2 linked regions of the Homo sapiens genome follow. The protein of the gene in region 2 binds, or shares a complex with, the protein of the main gene of each other region. Each region holds a gene or a part of one and is shown on either strand. Other genes may lie near its edges.

What was found.
Region 1: COA1 (region 2) and TMEM126B share a complex: the UniProt entries of both Homo sapiens proteins name them as parts of the mitochondrial complex.

The regions. Positions count from the first base shown.
Region 1 is NC_000011.10:85,631,266-85,634,314, reverse strand, and holds part of TMEM126B (complex I assembly factor TMEM126B, mitochondrial), read right to left. Parts: exon of another isoform or gene 2,999-3,049; intron 2,629-2,998; coding exon 2,507-2,628; intron 230-2,506; coding exon 36-229; coding exon of another isoform or gene 10-35; exon of another isoform or gene 1-9. UniProt on the Homo sapiens protein: As part of the MCIA complex, involved in the assembly of the mitochondrial complex I. Participates in constructing the membrane arm of complex I.
Region 2 is NC_000007.14:43,638,650-43,642,743, forward strand, and holds the end of COA1 (cytochrome c oxidase assembly factor 1 homolog), read right to left. Parts: intron 2,001-4,094; coding exon 1,924-2,000; intron 1,033-1,923; coding exon 933-1,032; 3' UTR 608-932; downstream 1-607. UniProt on the Homo sapiens protein: Component of the MITRAC (mitochondrial translation regulation assembly intermediate of cytochrome c oxidase complex) complex, that regulates cytochrome c oxidase assembly.

The sequences.
Region 1 (3,049 bases), on a different chromosome or scaffold from region 2:
ATAACTACGTTATACATTAGTGAATTTAAATTCACCTGAATACAAAGCATCAATTACAAAAAGCTTGTCAGTAACAACAGTAGACAAAAATGGAAGTGTAGCCAATGATGCATATGTCTTCAAAGCATCATGTTTAACCTTGAAGCAGCGTCTGAACAGGAAGTTTGAGAATATTCCAGAGAAACCAGCTGTTGTTCCAAATGTCGCCATTTGATATATATTTTGTGTCCTAATAGAAAAAAAGAAAAATTCAGTTCACTATACCATTGAACTTAATGGATACAGCCTCTCCTGAAAAGTTGTTATTGCATATCAATATCAAATATTTCTTGAGCACTTACTATATGTGAAAAGTATTTTCTAAGTGCTTAAGATAGGACAGTAAACAAAGCAAAAGAAAAAAAGAAATTTCCCACCCCTCATAGAACTTGTATTCTAATGAGAGGACATGATTCTCTTTCTAAGAATATTTACAGTAATTCTAAAATAGAGCTCTTTTAAATAATTTTGGCCACAAATAAATATAAATATGTTCCAATGCAGCCAAATTTTATGAGCTACCCAAATCCAAGAATACCTTTCCTGCAACTAAAAGATTTACTTTGCTTAAGTTCATCTAAAAAAAAGCTGTTTACATTTGGTTAGGCCTTCTATTTCTTCATTAGTCCCAGATACATTTAAAATAATTTGTCCTGAACAGACACTTCTCAAAAGAAGACATTTATGCAGCCAAAAAACACATGAAAAAATGCTCACCATCACTGGCCATCAGAGAAATGCAAATCAAAACCACAATGAGATACCATCTCACATGAATTAGAATGGCAATCATTAAAAAGTCAGGAAACAACAGGTGCTGGAGAGGATGTGGAGAAATAGGAACACTTTTACACTGTTGGTGGGACTGTAAACTAGTTCAACCATTGTGGAAGTCAGTGTCACGATTCCTCAGGGATCTAGAACTAGAAATACCATTTGACCCAGCCATCCCATTACTGGGTATATACCCAAAGGACTATAAATCATGCTGCTATAAAGACACATGCACACGTATGTTTATTGTGGCACTATTCACAATAGCAAAGACTTGGAACCAACCCAAATGTCCAGCAATGATAGACTGGATTAAGAAAATGTGGCACATATACACCATGGAATACTATGCAGCCATAAAAAATGATGAGTTCATGTCCTTTGTAGGGACATGGATGAAGTTGGAAATCATCATTCTCAGTAAACTATTGCAAGAACAAAAAACCAAACACCGCATATTCTCACTCATAGGTGGGAAATGAACAATGAGAACACATGGACACAGGAAGGGGAACATCACACTCTGGGGACTGTTGTGGGGTGGGAGGAGAGGGGAGGGATAGCTTTAGGAGATCTACCTAATGCTAAATGATGAGTTAATGGGTGCAGCACACCAGCATGGCACATGTATACATATGTAACTAACCTGCACATTGTGCACATGTACCCTAAAACTTAAAGTATAATAATAATAAAATAAAAAAAAATAAAAGGGAATGAGGGAACTTTTTGGGGATGTTGGAAGTATTCCAAATTTTAATTGTGGTGATGGTTACATAACTGTATAAATTTGCTAAAACTCATATAACTGTACACTTTAAATGGATGAATGTCAAGATATATAAATTATACTTCAATAAAGCCATAAAACAGAAAATGAAATAAAATAAAATAAAATAAAATAATTTGTCCAAGATTTATAAAACTTCATCCAAAAAAATCTGATTTAGTTTTCTTATTAAGACCCATATGTAAATCCAGGAAATAACATCAACTGTCCTTTGATTTTTTTCTTGAACTTTGTTCATTTAAAAGTCAAAATGGCCAGTCTGGCCAACATGGTTAAACCATCTCTACTAAAAATACAAAAATTAGCTGGTTGTGGTGGTACACGCCTGTAATCCCAGCTACTTGGGAGGCTGAGGCAGGAGAATCACTTGAACCTGGGAGCTGGAGATTGCAGTGAGCCGAGATTGTGCCACTGCACTCCAGCCTGGGTGACAGAGTGAGACTCTTATCTCAAAAAAAAAAGTCAATATGTTAATGTGAGACTATATTTATACCATGAAATCTGTATTCCCTTTTGCTGTACTAAGTACTGTGGCTGAGATAATCAATCCTAAACTGATTATAATTACTCACCAATTAAATATAAGTACCCCCCTCAATGGTTTTCTCCTAATTACTTTTAATTAAAATACATTTACTGCACAAAAGTTTTAGCAATACTTTTGGATACTTTTTAAGAAACAAAAGAAATTATCCACAATCCGAAATATTCCAACAAACCACCATTTTCATCTGTTCTTGTTTCCCCCATTCTTTTTTTTAAAGATGTGTTCTTCATAGCCAACTCAAAGAATAGGATCTTAGATAACAGAAAAGGTAAGAAAGAATAGGATCTTAGAAACAATGGCAATACAAAAGACTTGCAAATAAAATGACTGATTTTCAGCCTGGGCATTTCTCTTACATTTCTTTTCTAAGATAGTCAAAATTTTTTTCTATGATTTCTATGACCATTGGTCTTCTGAGTTTTGCATCTTCTAGAGAAGGACTGGGCTGACCATGCATAGATGCTGCCATCTTGAAAACCTGGAAAAAAAAATTCCAGAGCCATAATAGCTAATGATATTCATATTACATAAAACCTTACAGAATTCTACAGATTCAGATTTGAAAACATTTACAGTTTAGTAGTGTGCCAGGTACTGTGTCGTCTGCTTTCACATACTTTGTTAGTAATTCAATCAACATTTACTGAGCTCTTATTATCTGTTAGACATTGGCTTTTTGTTATTATTTTTTATTTTCTTGCTAAACATCCTACAATACAGACATTGGCTTTCTGATTTACACACTAACTTGAGAAATTGGTAGTATAATGATTATTTCTATACATATGAGCAAACTGAAGGTCTGAAAGGTTGGCTTGCTTGAGATTTAGTGTAGAAGGCTAACATACTGATACTGTTGCTGTTTTCCTCTCTCCTCATTCCGAGAAGGCAGTCAGGCT
Region 2 (4,094 bases):
ACTGCAGCCTCTGCCTCCTGGATTCAAGCAATTCTCCCACCTCAGCCTCCCAGGTAGCTGGGATTACAGGCGCCCGCCACCACGCCTGGCTAATTTTTTGTATTTTCAGTAGAGACGAGGTTTCACCATGTTGGCCAGGCTGGTCTCAAACTCCTGACCTCAGGTGATCCGCCTGCCTTGGCCTCCCAAATTGCTGGGATTACAGGCATGGGCCACCACACCCAGCCAGATGCTGTTAGCTTCAAACTAACTTTCCTAAGTTAACTTTATATGTATATGTACACATATAAATTTTCTAAGCTTTCAAAATGTTTGGAATAAAAACAATTATTTTGCAAATCTTCAACTGGGCAGATGGTTGGTGTCTGAAATAGAAATAAATAAAAGCAAAGCAAACAAAATATTCCAAAGTGATAGAGAATGTCCACAAGCTACTTAACAACATGAATTCAAGGTAGAGTGAAAAACCAGTGGTCTTCCTCATCATTCTCAGGTCAATAATTTAGAAAAAATCCCTTCAGTGCTACTAAGCTTCAGGCTTTGTAATGAGGACTGAAAATTCCAGGGGAAAGGAAGAGGAAGAGAAAGGAAAGAAATGAGAACTAGCAAAGATCAACAAACATTTTATTAATTCTGATTCCTTTTATCATGTGCTTTTTTATACAAAGCACTTTCAAATACATTACATTATCTTAAATTTATAATAGGAGTTTCTTTCGGATTCAGTTTAAAAATGACAAATAGCATTTGTTGTGCCCAAGTTAGAATTACACCAAAATTACCATGTGCTGGCACATACCATCATCCCACTGGTGGCTGGAAAACTGGGTTGCAGGAGTGTCTGTCACTGAGATGGGCCACCACCCCAGTGGCCATATGGTAGAGATGAGGGAAGGATGGACTAGAAGCAAGCTGGGTCTTCTGGGTCGTCTCTACTCCTTTTTCACTTCATCACCGTTTTCCCCACTGAGCTTGAACACAGGAATCTGCTGACCATCCTTGAGCTCTAAAAAGACCTCGTCAAGGTGCCACCTGAGAGAAACCAAAAGTATAGTATCTCTAATCTATGAAGGCTGAGGCAACAGCCGTAGTCAAAAAAAGGGGCGCGGAAAGCAGTTGTTTTGAATAATGCCTTAAATTTTTTTAAACATTATTTTGTGCGAGTGCTGTGTCAACACAATTTTTAACATTCTACCATGGGCTCTCATTATTTAACCAGCTTCGACTTCAAGGCAGGCTTAACAATGACTGACAGGCGAATGGAAGGGACATCAGGAAGAAGGAGCAGTTTATTTCTCATTTCCTAATTCACAGTGACCTTCAGTTCCTGGCATGGAATCCAGCCAGCTTGTACACTAATCCCAGGCTCAGAGGTCAGTGAGCCCAGGGTGAGCTAGGTGGGGCCTCCTGCTCCTTTTGTCCTTGGGAATTAAAATACAGCCTGGCTAAACAGCAAACATCTATGAGAGAGGCTTCCCGTGGGGGAAGTGAGTGGATGTAGCTATTGGCAACCAGACAAGCAAAGCCAATTAAGGGGTGGAGAGCTTATGCAAAGAATGTGATGAATAAATTCTGGAACAAGAGTCCATGCCCTTTATTCATTTATAACAATTGAGGCAGTCAAGTGAGAAGCTGTAACATAGCATCAAATTATGATAGACCCAGATCACTATAACTGGAAAGTTTTACAAATTCAACGGCATAAGGAGAGGGCAATTCAGTAGACTGTATGGATAAACTGGACTCAGCTAAGAGCCGCAGTACTGGCTTGCTGCCCAGGCCACGAAGCTTTCAGCTTCAAGCTTGAAAAATAATTCTTCCTATGCCCACAGTAATTTAACAACAAATGAAAACGGAGTTGGGGTTGCTTTCATCAGGAAGTCTTCCTCCCGCTCCCCCACTGCCGTCACCTTCCCAGGATACCTCTGAAAGGGGCCACCTCTGGATGAGTGGACGTAGAGAAGGCCCTCTGATTTGGATCCAGAGACAGGAATCTTCAACTGTGGGTGTAAAATGACAGAAAGGAGAGATGTAATTGGATAATTATTGTCATTTCAGAAGATGACAAAATGATGCTTTCTAGAGCTAAGCCTATAAAATCCAGTGATTCTCCACAGAAGTGAGTTCTTTTCTAACAGCCCAGCTGGAGAATCCACTTGATTTTCCAAATGTCCTGCCCCTCTTTGGTTGGCTGGTAAGGTCAATGGCAGTCTTTCCATTTGGCAAGGAGGACTCCTATGTCAATGCTCTGGGTACTTCCAATGATCGCTCAAAAGTCCACTGTTAAAAAGGAGCAAACTCCTGATACACGGAGCAACATCGATGAATATCAAAAACACACCAAGCCAAAGGGCTTTACACAGGAGGAGTATACAAGTATTTATGTTAAATTCTAGAACAGGCTAAACTGTCCTGGAAACCTGTTGTTATTTTGATGGATTACAAAGTAATTTTCAAACATCATTTTAAAAAAAAGAAAAGTGACTGCCTCTGGTGGAGCTGGAAGATGTGAGAAGGGACCCATTGGGTAGGGCACGAGGGAATTCAGGTGCTGGGAACAATCTACATCTAGATAACGGCTTGAGTGACACAACTGGGTGTATTTGTTAAAACTCATCAGATAGGACGCTTGGATTTGTGCCTTTCACAGAATGTAAATTTTACCTCAAAAAAAAAAAAAAAAACCAGGAACCATAACAAATATTAAACTCTACTTAATGATATATGTGCTTATGTGTATGATGTTTGAAAATTACTTTGTAATCCAACAAAATAACAATACAGATTCATGGAAACAGAGCAAAATCCAATTGTAGAATCCAGGTACCAGCTATAGGTGCTCACAGTATAAATTCTTTTGTCTTTTTTGTACGTTTGAAATTTTTCACAATAAAATACCAAAAAAAATTCACTGTTTTAAAGAGGGACCTATTGCCAGGAAATTGGTACATATTTTGACCTGGACCCTAAAGAACAGGCTTTAAAGAAAATACAATACATGAAGGCTTGTCTGAGAAAGACAACACAGAGTTCTCAGTTTCTCCTTCATCCCCAGCACCACAGGCTGGGCTCGTACCACAGGGATGCTGCCAGGTGCTGCCATGCCCATGCTCAGGGAGTCAGCCTGAGAGCCCGTAAGCAGTTGATCACACTCCGATTGAGAAAAAAAACAGTGAATGCAATATTTTTGGTTTCTCATGAAAACCAAAGAAGGTATGAGCCTCGCGAAGGAGACACAGGCACAGTTAATAAGGAAGCCCATCATGAGACAGGCATCTCCCAGAGTGCCTTCCTGTGTCCTCGGTGATGGCCAAAGATACCTCCCGGGGCAGGGGCAGGGGAGGGAATTGGGGCGGGGAGTATCCCACCCATTCCAAGTTGCCACCAAGAGAAGAAACTACTGAGGTACACATTTGTGCTTTCCAAACACACCTGAAGGAAGGCACAAGATTTGGAACATGGCTCCATAACTCAGGTGAATAGGCAGTCACCTAGTCACACTTCAAGAACAAATCTTTGGCCGGGTATGGTGGCTTCCGCCTGTAATCCCAGCACTTTGGGAGGCTGAGGCAGGTGGATCACTTGAGGCCAGGAGTTCGAGATCAGCTGGGCAATATGGCAAAACCCCATCTCTACTAGAAATACAAACACTTAGCCGGGCATGGTGGCGCACACCTATAGTCCCAGCTACTCAGGAGAGTGAGGCAGGAGAATCGCTTGAACCTGGGAGGTGGAGGCTGCAGTGTGCCAAGATCACACCACTGTACTCCAGCCTGGGTAACAGAGCAAGGTTCCATCTCAAGAAAAAATTTTAAAAAAGAACAAATTTTCAGGGTCCCACTGTTTGAGTCAAGCTACAGCTTTTCTCTGGAAATTATAGAATTAAGCAACAGAGTATACACTGAGCATCTCTGGATGCTTTAAAAAAAAATTTAAAAAGGAAGGAGAAAGAAATGGGCAGAAGCAAGAAGGATTCTGAAGAAGAGCAAACTCTGAGGGGCCAATGTCTGAACTGTGGGCAGCTGTGCTTCCATGGGTAGATGTGACACTTTACAGGTTGGTTCCTTCACCAGCCAGACCTTGCCAAAGATTAA